Linked DNA regions of Homo sapiens. The protein of the gene in region 3 interacts with the protein of the main gene of each other region in a pairwise test. Each region holds a gene or a part of one and is shown on either strand. Other genes may lie near its edges.

What was found. Proteins that work in one complex are often made in the same cells at the same time.
Region 1: the proteins of GMCL1 (region 3) and CHIC2 interact in binary tests that used the Homo sapiens proteins (3 or more experiments, as listed by UniProt).
Region 2: the proteins of GMCL1 (region 3) and GAGE10 interact in binary tests that used the Homo sapiens proteins (3 or more experiments, as listed by UniProt).

The regions. Positions count from the first base shown.
Region 1 is NC_000004.12:54,009,269-54,012,624, reverse strand, and holds the end of CHIC2 (cysteine-rich hydrophobic domain-containing protein 2), read left to right. Parts: intron 1-2,479; coding exon 2,480-2,530; 3' UTR 2,531-2,836; downstream 2,837-3,356.
Region 2 is NC_000023.11:49,299,630-49,306,665, forward strand, and holds the start of GAGE10 (G antigen 10), read left to right. Parts: upstream 1-4,016; 5' UTR 4,017-4,124; intron 4,125-5,222; 5' UTR 5,223-5,230; coding exon 5,231-5,311; intron 5,312-5,735; coding exon of another isoform or gene 5,736-5,774; coding exon 5,775-5,895; intron 5,896-7,036.
Region 3 is NC_000002.12:69,839,626-69,846,664, forward strand, and holds part of GMCL1 (germ cell-less protein-like 1), read left to right. Parts: intron 1-1,316; coding exon 1,317-1,414; intron 1,415-1,857; exon of another isoform or gene 1,858-1,927; intron 1,928-3,462; exon of another isoform or gene 3,463-3,490; coding exon of another isoform or gene 3,491-3,523; coding exon 3,524-3,636; intron 3,637-4,505; coding exon 4,506-4,571; intron 4,572-4,959; exon of another isoform or gene 4,960-5,242; intron 5,243-7,039. UniProt on the Homo sapiens protein: Possible function in spermatogenesis. Enhances the degradation of MDM2 and increases the amount of p53 probably by modulating the nucleocytoplasmic transport.

The sequences.
Region 1 (3,356 bases), on a different chromosome or scaffold from region 3:
TTTGGGGAGAGGGATGGATAGGAGATGTAAAGAATTTAGTGAAAAAAATATTTACTACATTTATAACACAAACACTAAGCTTAAAACTGAGGTATTAATTTTTTCATGCATTTCTAAATTTACTTTGGAAAGGAAAACATAAAAGTTATCCCAATGCTATGAATTCCAGATAGAACTATATGACTATAATTTATTCATAAAATAATTTATAACCTTCCAAAACATTCTGAACTATATGCTTTGTTTGTCAAATAAGTTTCCTTGAATTTTTAGATAATTAAGCACTTCTGCTAAAGCCATTATATTATTTTCACTCCATCATAGAAGATACCCAGAAGAGTAGTAAAGATAAAATAAATATTTCAATTGCCAGGAAAAAGCTGGGTGTAGTGGGCATGCCAGTAGTCTAGCTGGGGAGGCTGAGGCAGCAGGATCACTTGCGTCTAGGAGTACAAAGACAGTTTGGGTAACATAGCAATACCCACCTCTCTTTAAAAAAAATAATAATAAGCTGGGGAGAAAAAATGTGTTCTGCTGGATTTTCTTAGAGTATATATATATATTTGTGATAGTTGAAAGTGAGAATAATGTAGCTTAAAAAATTTATAAAAATGAATTTTAAAAGTTAAACTAGCAAATAAAATTCATTTTATCTAATGAATTTGGGCCTTTTTAACCATGTGTCCCTCTTTTCTTCAACTTTTCTTTAACTTACAGGAATTTAATTTTGTTAAAAGAAAATAATTATCCTTGATTATAATTTGAACATTGGAGATACTAAAAAATATATATATATATATTCCACCTTGGCACTAACTTTTCTTTGTTCAGATATGGTAGAGATGGATGATTTAGAATAAATGAGACAAGTGGCCAGTCTCTATGTGTGGCTTCTGAAGGAAAAATTTGTAGAATATATTATTTAAAAACTAATAGTTCAAATGTAGGCAAAGATAGCCTTTATTTTATGTTATGTATTAAAAGTGTATATTATAAAGTGTGGGGATGCCCATACCTGGGGACTAAAATTATAAAGACTGATTGAGGACATACTTGAAATACAAAATTATTTATTTAATGTTGACTCCTAAGTAGTTTAAACATTTAATTGTCAAATTTTAAAGCTGCAAAGAATCTTGTTATCTAGTTCAATGCTTTTATTTTATAGATAAGAAACCTGAGAAACAGGAAAATCTAGCTCAAATGAAGAAGCTAGTTGGGAGAAAGTATTTTAACAGGGAGCTAGTGAATATTTTGTAGGCAAATCACAGGTCAGGAGAGTGGCAAATGTGACAGCTAAGCCTTAGTGCAGGATACCTAGAGTAGGACAGGAATATTTTTGAGCCAGGTATAGAAGTGTATCTTCTTTATTGAGGCAGATCAAAAGCCAGGAGAACTGAAGAGTGAAAATGAAGATTCCTGGCCCAGACAGCTAATTTGTAGAAGTATTGAAATCTGGAGGTCATATCAAGCAAGACACAGTTTCTGAAAAAGAATGATGAGTTCACTAGACTTAGAAACTTTTAAAATCAAATAATTTTTAAATCACCATCTATTTAATACAAATTTGGAGCAAAAGAAAGAGTTGACTGTAATTTAAGAAAATTCAAATTTGGAAAAATTAGCTCTGGTCACTTTGTGTAATTCTGTGTTACCATATTTTGTTTTTGTTGGTTTTCCTTTAGTTTCCTATTAAAAGGCCTTTTGGAACAAATTTTAGCCTTTAATTTTGCTAACCTAAGAAGAAATGGACTTTTTAAAAAATTAAGAGATAAAGGACCTTTTATCTAAAGATTACATATTCTGGTAGAGTAAAATGAGAGCAACTCTAGAACTTAGAGAAGACTCATGTAGTTGGGTTGATTAAAAAGGAGAAAGTCTAAAGAAAAATGTTGGGTGAGCTGCAGTCACGTAGGGTGGTATAAAGGGCAAGGCTTTGGAGTTAAGACAGTCTTTTATTCAAACAGTGACTCCACATTCAATTGTGATACAACTTCTCTGGATCATCAGTTTCCTCATCTGTGAAATAAGGATTATAATACTTGCCTCATAGAAAAGTTGTTGGGTTTAAAGAGACCCAATGTAGTATGGAACACCTGGTATACAGTTAGTTCTAAGTAAATACTAGCCTCTTTTCTCATGAGTGCAGGGGAGCGTGCATGTATGCATGTTTGCTCCTCCAGTGTATCAGGGGCACTATCTATATCACCCTTCTCAGACTTTGGTGATTTTACTTGCTTATTTGTCTTCCTTTTCATAGAGCCAAGGTATTTCGTGTATTTGGTAAAGGTCCAGAAATAAAAAGAAAAATTCTCAGTGATGGAACTCTGCATTATCAGATAAAGATCTGTTTTAGTAATGCAAAGTTGCGTTTTAAAATGTGAATGGATTTTCAAAAAAATTGTGAAAGCATATAATTGAAGTTTTAAGAAAAAATTTTGTTTAAATCTTTTAAAACCTTTTTCTTCTCCTTTTACAGGTCATCCTCATAGAATTTTTACCAAAGACACCGATTTTTCGACCAGATTAGCATTTACTTTATTTATAGAGACTTTCCAAGTATGTTGTCTTTCCAATGGTGCCTTGCTTGGTGCTCTCCTGGTGGTGACATAACATTGGTTCTACAGAATCGTGTGGTGTTTTTTTTGTTTTTGTTTTTGTTTTTTTTTTAAATAACCGCATGTTCTAAGTGTGCATTTTTGTCAATCTTTGCAACAGTTATTTCATACAGATGTTTAATACTTAAGTTATTGTGCTCTTTTCTGTTATGTATTCTGATTTTCAAGGATTACTTTTTTGTATTATCAAAAAAATACATTTGAACTTAGCATAAAAAGTGGCCAGCCTTTTTTATTTTGTCACCAAGGTACACACAGTCCTTTATTTATAAATTCCTTAACAGAGAAAAACACCTTTGTAAGGCTCAACTTACCTATTCCAGCAAGCACACTTTTTCTGTCATTTTTTCTTTCTTTTCAAATTTGATATTGTCATTATTTTAAAATAGTAAGTTTTCTTTAATAGTCTTTTGGGACCTAACATACCCTTTCTCATACAATTCCTAATGCTCTGTTTATGGCAGATAATCTGTAATGTTATGAAGACCTATCAAAAAGTTTTAAAAGTATTTCTGTCTTCAAAGGTAGTAAGACAGGATTAAATTTTTATTAGAATAGACAAATCAGTGAATGGTATGCATGTATCTAGTGGTTACTAGAACTCAGGATCACACAATATAGTAGCATCACGATCTGTGTATATTTTTGATCAAGATGATAATAATGGCCTTACTTGGGTTTTTATCGTTTATCAAATCTTACATACAAAAGAGTGGAAGTATTCCTTTACAAAATTTC
Region 2 (7,036 bases), on a different chromosome or scaffold from region 3:
GCTCTGTCCCAGAAAGATGGGAGTTTTATCTATAAGCCCCTGCCTGGGGCTGCTGCCTTTCTTTCAGAGATGCCCTTCCCAGAGAGGTGGAATCTAGAGAGGCAGTCTGGCTACAGCGGGTTTGCCAAGCGGCCGTGGGCTCTGCCCAGTTTGAACTTCCCGGAGGCTTTGTTCATAATGTGAGGGGAAAACTGCCTACTCAAGCCTCAGTAATGACAAACGCCCCTCCCCCCACCAAGCTTGAGCATCCCAGGTCAACTTCAGACTGCTGTGCTGGCAGTGAGAATTTCAAGTCAGTGGATCTTAGTTTGCTGGGCTCCGTGGTGGTGGGACCTGCTCAGCTAGACCACATGGCTCCCTGGCTTTAGCCCCCTTTCCAGTGGAGTGAACGGTTCTGTCTTGCTGGCATTCCAGGCACCACTGGGGTATGAAAAACAACTCCTGCAGCAAGCTCCATATCTGCCCAAACGGTTGCCCAGTTTTGTGTTTGAAACCTAGGGCCCTGGTGGCATAGGCACAGGAGGGAATCTCCTGGTCTGTGGGTTGAGAAGACCATGGGAAAAGCATAGTATCTGGGCCTGGATGCACCGTTCATCACAGCACAGTTCCTCATAACTTCCCTTGGCTAGGGGAAGGAGTTCCCCGACCCCTACTGCTTCCCCGGTAAGGCAGTGCCCCACTCTACTTCGGCTTGCCTTCCATGGGCTGCACCCACTGTCTAATGAGTCCCAGTGAGATGAGCCGGGTACCTCAGCTGGAAATGCAGAAATCACCCACCTTCTGCCTTGATCTCACTGGGAGCTGCAGACCAGAGGTATTACTATTTGGCCATCTTGCTATTGCTGCTGTTTTTTTTTTTTTTTTTTTTTTTTTTTTTTAAGACAGAGTCTCACTCTGTCACCCAGGCGGGAGTGCAGTGGTACAACTTCAGCTCACTGCACCCTCTGACTCCCAGGCTCAAGCGATCATCCCATCTCAGCCTCTTGAGTAGCTGGAACTATAGGCACAAGCCACCGTGGCCCGATTAATTTTGTTTTTTTGATATAAGTTTTGTAGAGATGAGGTCTCACTATGTTGCCCAGGATGGGATTCTCTGGCTCTTAATAAATAATTGCTTTTTAAATCTTTCACAAAGGAAACCTTGAGTGAGTGAATAATCAAAAGGTGATAGATTGTTTAGTTTCTATTTTCTGTGGCATGAAGGTCAGTGATGCTCAGGATGGGTGTGAGTAAGATGCTTGTGCTAAGCATGCTCCCTGCCCCACAGTCAGTCTGCATGAGCCACTGTTTCTAATAAGACTGTGGATAGAGTGATATAATCACCTCTAACCATATCAAATGTTACACGTAAGTTTCAGATTTTGAGACATGAGTTGATAAGATTTGAAGTTCAAAGACCATGACTTTAGTACTTCCTGAGTAATCAACTGAAATATGTTTTACATATGTGTTTTCCAAATTGCTGACCATTCATTATAAGTGCTTCTGAATTTAAAGGAGGTACTTGATGTATAGGTAAGAAATTACCTTTAAATTCTGGAGGTCTACCCTCAAAGTGTATACAGAGGTTTAATTGGATGTAAGACACAGGATCACCTTTAGGGTTCTGTTTTTTTGTCTATTTAATAAAACCCAAACTGTAGTATGCTTTACATGCCTTTAGAATCATATAAATAAACTGCTGTTAAGTAATGTTCCCAGTTGTTATGTTTCTGTTACAGGTGAAAAGCAATCACGGAGTTAAAAGAAGACAAGCTGAAATGATGCAGGCTGCTCCTATGTTGGAAATTTGTTCATTAAAATTCTCCCAATAAAGCTTTACAGCCTTCTGCAAAGTAGTCTTGCGCATCTTTTGTGAATTTTATTTCTAGCTTTCTGATGCTGTGAAATATGTATCATTCTTTGAAATTTTATATTCTAACTGTTTCAGCTGGTATGCAGAGACATCATTCCTTTTTTTTTTTTCTTTTTTTCTCTTTCCAGACAGAGTCTCACTCTGTTGCTTAGGCTAGAGTGCAGTGGTGTGATCTCTGCTCACTGCAACCCCCGCCTCCTGGATGCAAGCAATTTCTGCCTCAGCCTCCCGAGTAGCTGGGATTACAGGAGCCCACCACCTACCCAGCCAGATTTTGTATTTTTAGTAGAGACGGGGTTTCGCCATCTTGGCCGGGGTGCTCTTGAACTCCTGACCTCGTGATCCACCCACCTCGGCCTCCCAAAGTGTTGGGATTACAGGCGTGAGCCACCGCGCCCGGGCGAGACATAATTCTTATATATTGATTTTCTATCCAGCAGCCTTGTGAAATATGCTTATGAATTCTAAAAGTTTACTTCTAGATGGTTTTCAGTCTTCAACATACAGAATCATACCATCCTTGAATAAGAACAATTTTGTTTCTGCCATTTTTTTTTTCTTTTTCCTTTTGTATTTTTTGTAGAGACGGGGTTTTGCCATGTTTCCCGGGCTGTTCTTGAACTTTTGAGTGCAAGTGATGCACCCGCCTCACCTCCCACAGTGCTGAGATTACTGACGTGGGCCACCGTGCCGGGCCTGTTGTTGCCATTGTAAAGAGTTTTATTTCCTTTTCTGATTTTATGGCATTGTGCAGACCCACCTGTTAAAATGGTGACAGTCAATATCCTTGTCTTATCCCTGATGAGAAACCGAAAAATTTCAACATTTCACCATCCTATTTACTGTCCTTTTTTTGTAGATGGACTTTATCAGAGTAAGTCATTCCATTCTGTTCCAAATTTGCTGAGAGTATTCATTTGAATATATGTTGAGTTTCATCAGTGCATCTATTTTGTTTATAACAGCATTTTTTTCCCATTCATCTGTTAATGTAGTGAATTAGATTGATAACTTTGTACATTTTTATCTTCTATTTTTAAAAATCGAGACAGGGTCTCATTCTATCACCCAGGCTGGAGTGCAGTGGTGTTATCAGAGCTCACTGCATCCTTGACCTTCTTGGCTCAAGTGATCCTCCCACCTCAGGCTTCTAAGTAGCTGTGACTATAGGTACATGTAACCATTCCCAGCTAATTTTTCTTCTTCTTTTTTTTTTTTTTTGTAGTGATGAGATTTTCTCATGTTGCTTAGGCTGGTCTCGAACACCTGAGCTCAGGCAATCTGCCCAGCTCAGCCTCCAAAAATACTAGTACTACAGGCATGAGTCTTGGCCTGGCCAGTTTTTCTTATACAAGGGTCTTCTCTATGTAAAGACTAAACTTATCTGTATCTTTGTGAGGGTGTGCTAAGGGCATGATGAAATTTATCATTCTATTGATTTAAAGAAAACTATCCTTGACTTTCCAGTGTGTAAGTCCATGAAAGCATAATTATGTTGAAAGCATATATTGTTATGGGTGTTGAGAACCCTGCACTTTCTGCTGCTGTGGGAGCATGTCCTTGGAGGTACCTTTCGTCTGTTTTCTCAACTCCAAACATCTTAGGACCATGGGTTGTGACTGGTAAGGAATGTGTCTTGCGAGTTTCAAGATGGAGTTGATTTTCACATGGTGTCACTCTGGCTCTCCTGTTTCTCTAATACTGGCACTTCTCTTTCTGTGATTCTGATGCTACAAATGATAGATATCGTTTTAGTATTTTCTTATGGGTCCTAGAGATTGTATTCATTTTTCTTTCAGTCTCTTTCTCTGACTTGTTCACATTTAACAATTTCTTTTTGGGGTAGGTTGCTATTTCTGTTTTCGCAGGTGGTTTACCTGTCTTCTCAGGCAGTCACCGTGGTCCTTGTCCCCATGGTGGGGCCGGGGCAAGAGAGGGCCCTGGAGGGGAGGGGGGTTTAGTTGAAGATGGAGTGAGTTTTGAGGGGAGCACTACTTGAGTCCCAGAGGCATAGGAAACAGCAGAGGGAGGTCAGATTCCATTATCCTCAGTGGGGATGGGAATCGAGGGTTGGGGGCGTGGGGCTGGGAACGGCAGCCTTCCCCAACCCGCAGCTGTACATGCTCCTTGGCTCCCGCCTCAGTGCGCATGTCCACTGGGCGTCTTCTGCTCAGCCGCTTTACCCACGTGGAGAACGCCAGGGAGCTGTGAGGGTGTGTGGTCTCGTTCCTGTCGTCTGGAATATTTTTCCTCTACTGAGATTCATCTGGTAGGTCTGCAGGCCAGTCCTCCCGGGGTCTGAAGTGTGAGTGAGGGTGAAGAGCAGGCAGTGTGCTTCGGGTGAGTCCGTTGGGTCCTGCTTCGTGGTCTGTGGCCTCTGAGGGAGAAGGGCCTCGAGGCTTCTGAAAGGGAAGGGGCTCCTGGCCTCTGAAAGAGAAGGGCCTTGAGGTCGTCCTCCTTCTCTCAAAGGCTGTGAGGCCACCATCTGCTTTGTGGTCGTGAAGGGGCCAGGACAAGGAGGAAGGTGGGCCATGGAGGGGAGGCGGTCAGGGGCTCAGGTGAAGAAGGGGCGATTGCTGGGTGTGCTGTCAGAGGGATGGAAGTCCGGAGGTGCCAGGAATACCCGATACAGGGGAGATCCCTGAATGAGGTCCCGGACAGGTGCGAGGAGGGCGATAAAGAAGGGACCTGGCACCTGGGAAGACTGCGGGCTGGTGAGTGCCCCTGAGCTTTGTGGAGTGGGGAGCCCCGAGTGAGAAGCATCGCAAGATCTCACCTCCGCCATGGAAGGTCTGGCAACAGTGGGAAGGACTGGGAGAGGCTGTGCGGTCCAATCAAACTTGATTTGAGAGAAGTGAATGGCTCTAGTAAGTGGGAGTGTGCCCAAAGTAGCAATCACGAGAATTATGATTCACTAATGTTTTCATGTGGAGTCCACTTGTGAAACTAAACCTCATCAGAAATGACCTCTGCCAGTGGGGCGCCATGGCCTGCGCCTGTAGTCCCAGTTACTCGGGACGCTGAGGTGGGAGGATCCCTTGAGCAGGAGGTCGATGCTGCAGTGAGCTGTGATCACGCCGCTGCACTCTGCCAGAGCAACACAGGGAGACTGCGGGACCAAAAGAAATTTAGAAAAAAAATGTCCTCTGCGTTTTGTCACACGCCTTAAGATGATTGCTCTGCCAGCTTGGCCAGCATAAGTGGCTTTGTAGGCACTCAGAAAAGGTACACACATATGCTTAACTCTGGGACTTATTTTGAAAGTATTTTCAAAATTAAAACGACAAGTTAACATTTATCCATGGAGGTGATCGAATATAGCAGCCCTGTGGAGCGCACGTTCCCAATCACGGTTGTCTGTTTTCAGTGTGAAATATGAGTTGGCGAGGAAGATCGACCTATCGGCCTAGACCAAGACGCTACGTAGAGCCCCCTGAAATGATTGGGCCTATGCTGGTGAGTGCTTAAACGTTAATTCGTTGTTTTCTATTAGCAGAAATTAATTTTTGTGACAGTATTGTTGCATTAGTATGGAAATGCTGATAAAGGTCTTTCCTGCTCATAAAAAATGATGATGGCGTCTCATGAAGGAAACATTGATTCTGGAGAATTTTTTTTCCTCTAGTGTTCTTCAGCTTTTGCCCATGACTTCTTTCTCAGGCTTTGTTTGTTAATGACAGATTGTACACATGTATTCCAACACTGAGTATAATAGCCTCCAAAGTCCTCGTGCGTCACTTTTCTCATAGTAACCTTCCTGTGGGTCGAGTAACCTTATTGGGCATAGAGCATAGAGTTGGAGAAATGTCTTTAGGCTTAGTTAGGACCAGAAATAGCTATGTATTCTGTGTATATATGTAAAATTTTGTATCAATAACGAAACTTATTTTTTATTTGCACACCCACACGTATTCCCCAGCCCGAGCAGTTCAGTGATGAAGTGGAACCAGCAACACCTGAAGAAGGGGAACCAGCAACTCAACGTCAGGATCCTGCAGCTGCTCAGGAGGGAGAGGATGAGGGAGCATCTGCAGGTCAAGGTGAGGGAAAGGGAAGAAGAACGTCTGCTGGTGTGTGCGTGTGTGTGTGTTCGTGTGTGTGTGTGTGCACGTGTGTGTGTGTGTGTGTTAGGCATTGTCACATAGGAGGAAGAGGAGGAAAGAAAACAATGGAAAGAATGCCTGAAATTGACTGGAAAAGCGAGGAGGCTATGTAGTTTGCAGCTTAGCTTAGGCAAATCCCTCACTATGATAAAAGTTCTCATCTTTATGAATGAGAAAATGGAGGCGCTGGGATTGTGTTTTATCCAAGAGCCCTTGACTGGTGAATACAAAATTTGTATTTTGTTCCAAGGTTTGTGTCTTCCTACCATCTATGTTGCTGTAAAAACGGAAATGATTTTGCTGAAAATGCTTAAAACTCAAAGGCTTTACTGTAAGGTAGCTTAGTACTGACCCAAGAATAGACCCAGTTCAGAGGAGCAGGAGCAGCTCCAAAAACCGAGTCACTGAATGTCAGCCACTGTTTCCTTTGATTGATGTTTTTATATGGTACATTTGATAAAAGCTGGATAAATGAGGATACTGCCATACAGGTAGCTGGTTTAGTTATTTTCTAAGTGGCTTTTAGGAGGTGATTAAATCCTTTTATGGTTAGAAAAAGCAAAAAAGGAATTATCCTGAGATTAACATTGAGATAGAAATAATTTCTCCTAGATAAAATATTTTCAAACAAAACATTTATGTAACTGAGGTCATGGATTATTCCAGGGATGCACTGTTAAAAATTTCTAGAATCTGACTGACAACAATGCCCATTAATTGCTGTCCTCCCACTCCCTTATTCTCAGTGTGGGACAGTATATTTTCTGTGATTCACAAACAATGTTATATTTGGTGCTTTGTTCTTCACGGGGTTCATTTATGGAATATTACATTTAGGACCTTTGGACCTAAATATAACTTTATTTGAACAAAATGAAGTTTCTATTTACCTCAATAAGTAATGGGTGTCATGACTGTAAGATTTTCCATAGTCCTCAAATCCATTCAGCTAATCGATCCTTCAGAAATTGACATTGTAATTGTAACCGAAATCCTATCCATGTGGTAGACTTGAGATTTCTTAGCTGATGCACACTGCTCTCGGTACTCTATGGCTGAATATAAGCATTATACATGT
Region 3 (7,039 bases):
TAATTCCTTCCAGCCTTGTAGTCTAGAAAACTCCTTTTATCACCTCAAGGTGATAATTTGATGTTGATTTACACCATAGTTTATCAGTTCTGTCCATCTTATCACTAATCTGTTTTGTCATTTGGGCCTTATCAGTTTGTTTACTTATCTTTGTAAATATGCCCACCTGGGATATGGAAGATGTAGGATGGAGGAAGGAAAAGTATGACCATTTTTTTTTTTAATTACATAGAAAATCTGATAAATAATACTGATTATTCCCTATGTATGAAGATGTTTTCTGGGAACAATAAATAAAAATATTGTTTTAGAGCTAAAAGAATCCTTAGTTGAGGAAGCTGAGGCTCAGAGGAGTTAAGGGACTTATTTTGGATCTCAGAGCAGTTTAGTGAGCCTGTGTCAGACTACAGCTCTCCTCATTCCCATTCCAGTGCTCTTGCTGCTCCCCTCATTGGTGGTCCACATGGAAGTACCTGGTGCGATACAAAGGCAAAGAAATACTTTAGTTAAGAATATTTACAGCCTGTAATCCCAGCACGTTGGGAGGCCAAGGTGGGTGGATCACAAGGTCAGGAGATCGAGACCATCCTGGCTAACATGGTGAACCCCATCTCTACTTAAAAAAATACAAAAAATTAGCCAAGCGTGGTGGCAGGCACCTGTAGTCCCAGCTATTTGGGAGGCTGAGGCAGGAGAATGGCGTGAACCCGGGAGGCAGAGCTTGCAGTGAGCCGAGATCGCGCCACTGCACTCCAGCCTGGGCGACAGAGCGAGACTCCATCTCAAAAAAAAAAAAAAGAATATTTACAAAGCAAACCATGTGGGACATTCATAACAGTGGCAGTGGAGGAAGGATGAACAGGCATAGATCACTGTGGGGGCTGGGAATGAGTGTGGCATGGACAGGACTCAGGAGCTGTACCACATTTCTCAGTGGTGGAGTGCTGAAAGCAGCCGGGTTAAGATTATCTTTGAGTCTGCGTATTTGTACTTAACGATTGGTCTACTGAGGAGTATCTTATACAACTTCTTGCAAGGCATCTTGGTTGTGACCACTGATGTCAAGATTACATGTTAGAAGAATGCAGCTAGATTTGGTAGAATAAACAGAAATTTATAACCTTGTTATTAAATTAACAGTGTCAACCAGTAACCATTACTAGCGTTTTAATTAGAGATACTTCTGTTATCCTTTTATGTGCATGCCACATTTAGACGGATGTCTTTGTGTGTGAAGACAGTCGTTGTTGTTATTTGTATAACACTTGTAATAGATATAAATATTATTTCATCCTACATGTGTACCTTGCTTTCAGCACTGCAGGTTGCATTTGGTTCACTGTATCGAGATGATGTCTTGATAAAGCCCAGTCGAGTTGTTGCCATTTTGGCAGCAGCTTGTTTGCTGCAGTTGGTAAGTATGCACGTTATTCGAAGAAAGGTTCAGAATAATAATCTTTGTCTCAAAGTGTGTACTCCAAAAACAAAAATAAAGCTTAGCTTTTTTGGAGTTTTTAAATAAAAATGAAATGTATAAATATGACATTTATTATAAATCATTTAAAATGCCTAACCAAAAGCAATTTATTACAACCGAGGGAGTCATGATGTCTGCATAAAATGAATGCAGGCCATTTCTGTGTAGATATCTTAGTATGACTATAATGTGGAAAAAACGTACTTGTCTAAGGTCATTTACAGATTTCATTAATGACTTGACTATTAAGCAGATGGCTTATGATTACCAATTAATTTCATTCATGGGTTCAAATAAACATGCATGCCTACTATTTAAATTTCTCTTAATTTTGAAAGAATTGTGTATAAATCACATATATGTATTTTAATCTACTGGCAGAATGACAGATTTGTTCATTGAAGAGAAGTGTGTTGAGCACTGTGTCAAACTAGACACAGAAAGCCAAAGGTAACTTAAGACGTAATCCTTACTTTCAAAAAGTTCACAACATAGTATGTATGTGTGGAGAGGGGAGGGAGGGTTGATATACAAACCCAAAGGTAAAGTAAGAGCTGTTCAATATTATAGGTATGATAATAAACATCCTGTAGCATTTAGTGAATGGATAAAGAAGGGAGTGGTCAGTTCATCCTGGTGGTGTCACATACGAAAGTTACATTTTCACACAGAGTCTTGAAAGTGTGTTTGTATTGCAAAGTAAGAAGAGGGGAAGGAAGAGCATTTCAGACAGAGAGAACAGAGTAAACTAAGATCTAGTGATGTGAAATAATGGAGGATTCAAGACTCTAACAGAAACATGGCTCCCACATAAACATAAGAAGGATTGCAGAAGAGGGGGGCAGAAGCCAGATCATGAAAATACATCTATACATTGCTAAGAAGTTTAGCATACACAGTACCTTTGGAATATTTTAATCAGGGGAAAGACGAAGTTATGTTTTAGAAAGAATACTTCAGTAACAATGTGACAGATGAATTGAAGGAAAGATGAGTACAGCATTAGAGACAAAAACTTGTTGCATTCGTCCAAGGGAGGAAAGTAGGGTAGTAGCAATAAGCTTGGAGGGGAAAAAGTGGATACCAGAGAGATTCAGGGATAATCCACTGGACTTGGTGATAGACTAAATGTTAAGAGGAAAGGGGAGGAGTCTAGAATGATTTCCAGGTAAGTTTAAAATCCTAATGGAGTCAATGTTTTATTTTAATCTTAAAAAATTGTTTACTTTTATGTGGTATTTTTGTACTGATTTATTTGAAGTATTAATAGCTTGCTAAATATCCTTGGTTGAGATCATTTGATTTTCAAAATGTTTTGATCCTTTCAATACTTACTTCCAATAAGTATACTTTATTATCTAACTCTGGTCCTTTTGGTTTTGTTCTAAATTCACCTTCTGCTTACTTTTATGATTTACTAACTCTTTAACTTAATATACCTGCATGATGAATGTATTTCAGAAATTTGAATGAAAAGTAGTATTCTTCCCATATATTAAAGTTAGTTCACTTAAAACCTATATAAACATTTTAGGTTAAAACTTTAATGTTAATCATTTGAAATAATAATATACTTGTTTTAAGTCTATCTCTTAGATATTGTAGTTATTTTAAACTTGATCACTTTCTGCTAATGCATACTGTTAGTTTAGTCCCATCACATGGTTAACTGACTATGTAGACTTCTTAATTTAAAAAGAAATGGCAAAACAGACAAAATGCTGCTAAAGAAATTTGCAAAGGTCTCAGACAGGGGAAGAATAGAAAAGAAAAAGAATAGCAGTATTCATTCTCTACCTTACTACTCCCCCCCACCTTCCATTTTCAAATTCCAAGTATTTAGTTGAATACTTGCTGAACTTTTTTCAGTATTTTTATTGGACTTGTTAAAAAAAAAAAAAAAAACTTAGGTTTGCTGCACTTAATGAGTTTTCTTTCTTTTCTTTCTTCTTTTTTTTTTTCTTTTACTTTTTAATATGTAAAAGCTGTCAGAGCTAATTTTTCCCACGTGAAATGGGCCTTTCCAGTGCTTATTTATATTTACAGGACGGTTTAATACAGCAGTGTGGTGAGACAATGAAGGAAACAGTTAATGTGAAAACTGTATGTGGCTATTACACATCAGCAGGGACCTATGGATTAGATTCTGTAAAGAAAAAGTGAGTTGCCTTTCTTGTTTTTCTTCCTATCCCACTTTTAGGAATTTGGTTGCTTTAGTTTCTTAAGAGAATGTATAGCTATAAGAAAGAAAGAATTAAGGAAAAATAGGATAGGGGGATGGAATTTTATTAAATAAAAAGCCCCTTTTAACTTTTGGACTAATTAGTAAATTCCTCAAAAGTGTCGTCTTTGTAAGTGACCATAGGTGGGTTATATACATGCTTATAAAAACCATGGTCACCTTGGTCGGGTGTGGTGGCTAACACCTGTAATCCCAGTGGTTTGGGAGGCCAAGGCAGAAAGATCACTTGGGCCCAGGAGATTAAGACCAGCCTGAGCAATGTAGGGAGACCCCATCTCTACAAAAAATTTTAAAAATTAGCCAGGCATGGTGGCATGCACCTGTGGTCCCCACTATTCTGGAGGCTGAGGTCAGAGGATTCTTTGAGCCCAGGAGGTTCAAGACTGCAATGAGCCGTGATCATGCCACTGCACTTTATAGTATATTTTCTATTAAAATTGTTTAAGAAGTAGGCCTGATAGACTGACAGTCCTTCTAACTCTTGAGAGTTGCAGTACCTGTTTTGAGATTTTAAAGAAGGTTATACTAGTATGCAGACCCCTTAATAAACTATTTAACACAAACTCAAAATGAAGTTTTAAAACTGGAAATGCTCTCGTTAATATAAAGGAAATATTCTCTTAATAATATCCACTGACAAAAATAATACTAAATTTCCTATTGTTAAGCTAAAAGTTTTGAGCATGTTCTGGCAAGATTAATCTGATTTTATTTTAACTATAAGTCCTACTTAATAAATTGTAAATACATGGCATATAATGTAATAATTATATATTTTAATTTCAGGTGCCTTGAATGGCTTCTAAACAATTTGATGACTCACCAGAATGTTGAACTTTTTAAAGAACTCAGGTATTTGAATTTCAAGTAACTTCATAATTAGTCATCCTAAAATATTGTTTATCATTTGTTAAAGTACATAACATTTTTGTAGAACACAAAAATATATTATGAAAAAGCAAACAATTTAATGAAAGGGCTTGACTACATCCATAAACTGAAGAAATGCTGTGCAAACTTATTTCTTTGTTGTGAATAATATAATGGATATTATGTCTACTGTTTTAACCGAAAAATGCATTACTGTTATAAGACTATAGAAAAGTTTCAGGTTTTGCCAGGCTGTTAGAGAATTTAAAAGTTATATTTTAAAAATCATCTTTTTTATTGAGAAATAAGTTTGAAGAAACTGTTTTGGCCTTTTTTTTTTTTTTTTTTTACCTTCAAAAACTTTTCATGTTGATCCGTTTTCTCACTAGGATGAATTCTCTGATGTGGAGTAACAAATGTGTGTCTCCTATAAATGTATATTTTTCCATCTCTGATTATTTCACACCTTGAATCCAAATCTGTAGTCCCAGCTACTCTGGAGGCTGAGGCAGGAGGATTGCTTAAGCCATAGAGGTCAAGGTTGCAGTGAGCTGTGATTGCGACACTGCTCTCCAGCCTCAGTGAGAGTGAGACAAGTTACCATGGTTCTTCACCGTCACCTCCTGGTACAAGGTCTTCTGAACCAGGTCAAGGTATTCCCACTCCTGATGAGAGAAGTCTGTGGCCATGTCCCTGAATGTTACAAATTCACAGGCCATGGTTTTAGACAAGCAAAAGCCAATCAGTCCTCAGGGTTTCTCTACCAGAAAAGCGATTTGGGAAAACCTAGACCTATAATCCCAGCACTTTGGGAGGCCAAGGTGGGAGGATTGCTTGAATCTAGGAGTTCGAGATCATCCTGGGCAACATAGTGACATCCCCTCTCTTTGAGAAAATATCAATCTTCCTTTAAAAAAAACCTGTTAGCGCCACACAGGGTCCCATGCAGGCTTCAGGCTGGGGCTGCAGAGGCTCCTGCAGTCAACTGCGCCGCCTTCGTCCTCAAGCGGGACCTGGTCAGACGCAGCACAGCGCAGAGCCAGAGGTCCTGGAGATGGAGCCAGAGGTCCAAGATTTCTCCATCACCTGTGGACTATGTAGTCCAAGCTGGAATAATAGGACCGCAGTCACCCGTGAGAAATGGATTCCAGGGTTCTAAAAACCTACAAGAAATATGGCGGTGACAATGAGGACTGCCCACCCTGCCCACCACCCAAGCTGCAGAGCAGCCTTTCTTTTTTAAAGAGATGGGGGCCTTGGTATGTTGCCCAGGCTAGACTCAAACTCCTGAGCTCAAGCAGTCCTCCTGCCTCAGCCTCCAAGTAGCAGGGATTATAGGCACATACCACTGCACCCAGCTTAGTTTGGCTTTTTGGATTAAGTACGCATATTATCCATTTATTCCTGCAGCAAGTACTTCCTGACTGTCCTTTATATGTAAAGATACTCTATTAGGGGCTGTGAAGAATGCAGAGATGATTTTGTCATGGTCTCTTGCTGTCAAAGAGCTTATTTGTAGTAATGGGACTAAGATATTTGTGATGGGTCTGAGAAAATCTGGCTAGCAGTTAACTTTTGAAGGCTGGTTGGCATTACAGTCATTTTCTGGCTTGCATTTCCCTGACAGCAGTGCTTCTGAGACAAGGATACAAATGTGTCCGAGAGTATGTGACATTCTGATGGAAATGTACAAAACCAAAGTCAAACATTACATAGCTTCCCAGAATGTGAATTTTACTGATTTTTTTTTTTTTTTTGGTGGGGAGGAGGTGGGGAAGAGGTAAATATTTTTATGTTTAAATACATTATGGAATAGAGGGAATTCAAATTTCCTTGAACTCTCAAGATACAATTTATAGAAATGTTACTTTTTATGGTTAGACCACCTCCTAGATTATGGGGTTTTTTTCCTTTCTTTTGCCTTTACGAGATAATTTGGTAGAGAAGTGTGAGAGACTTTCATCACCTGGTGATGTCAAGGCATAAATAAATCACCGTAGAATGTTTGATTTGAAAATCGTTAGAAACACTTTAATACAGTCAACCCTGCTTATCCATGGGTTCTCCATTTGTGGATTCTACCAACTGCCGATTGAAAAGATTTGGGGGAAAAACTATAAAAAATAATAACAAAAAAACCCAATGTAGTATGACAACTATTGCATAACATTTACATTGTATTAGGTACTGTAAGAACACCTAGAGATGATTTAAAGTATATGAGAGGATGTGCATAGGTTACATGCAAATACTATGCCATTTTATATAAGGGACTTGAGCATAGAGGATTTTGGTATTTGTAGGAGGTTCTGAAACCAATCCCCCACAGATACAGGGGGATGACTCTAATTTCTCACTGAACTTTTTGAAAAAGGAGCAGGATCCTCTTAAAAACCCACGTGCTCTCTTGGCTTTTTATGGCTCAAAGGAAAGAAAGAACAAAGGAAAAG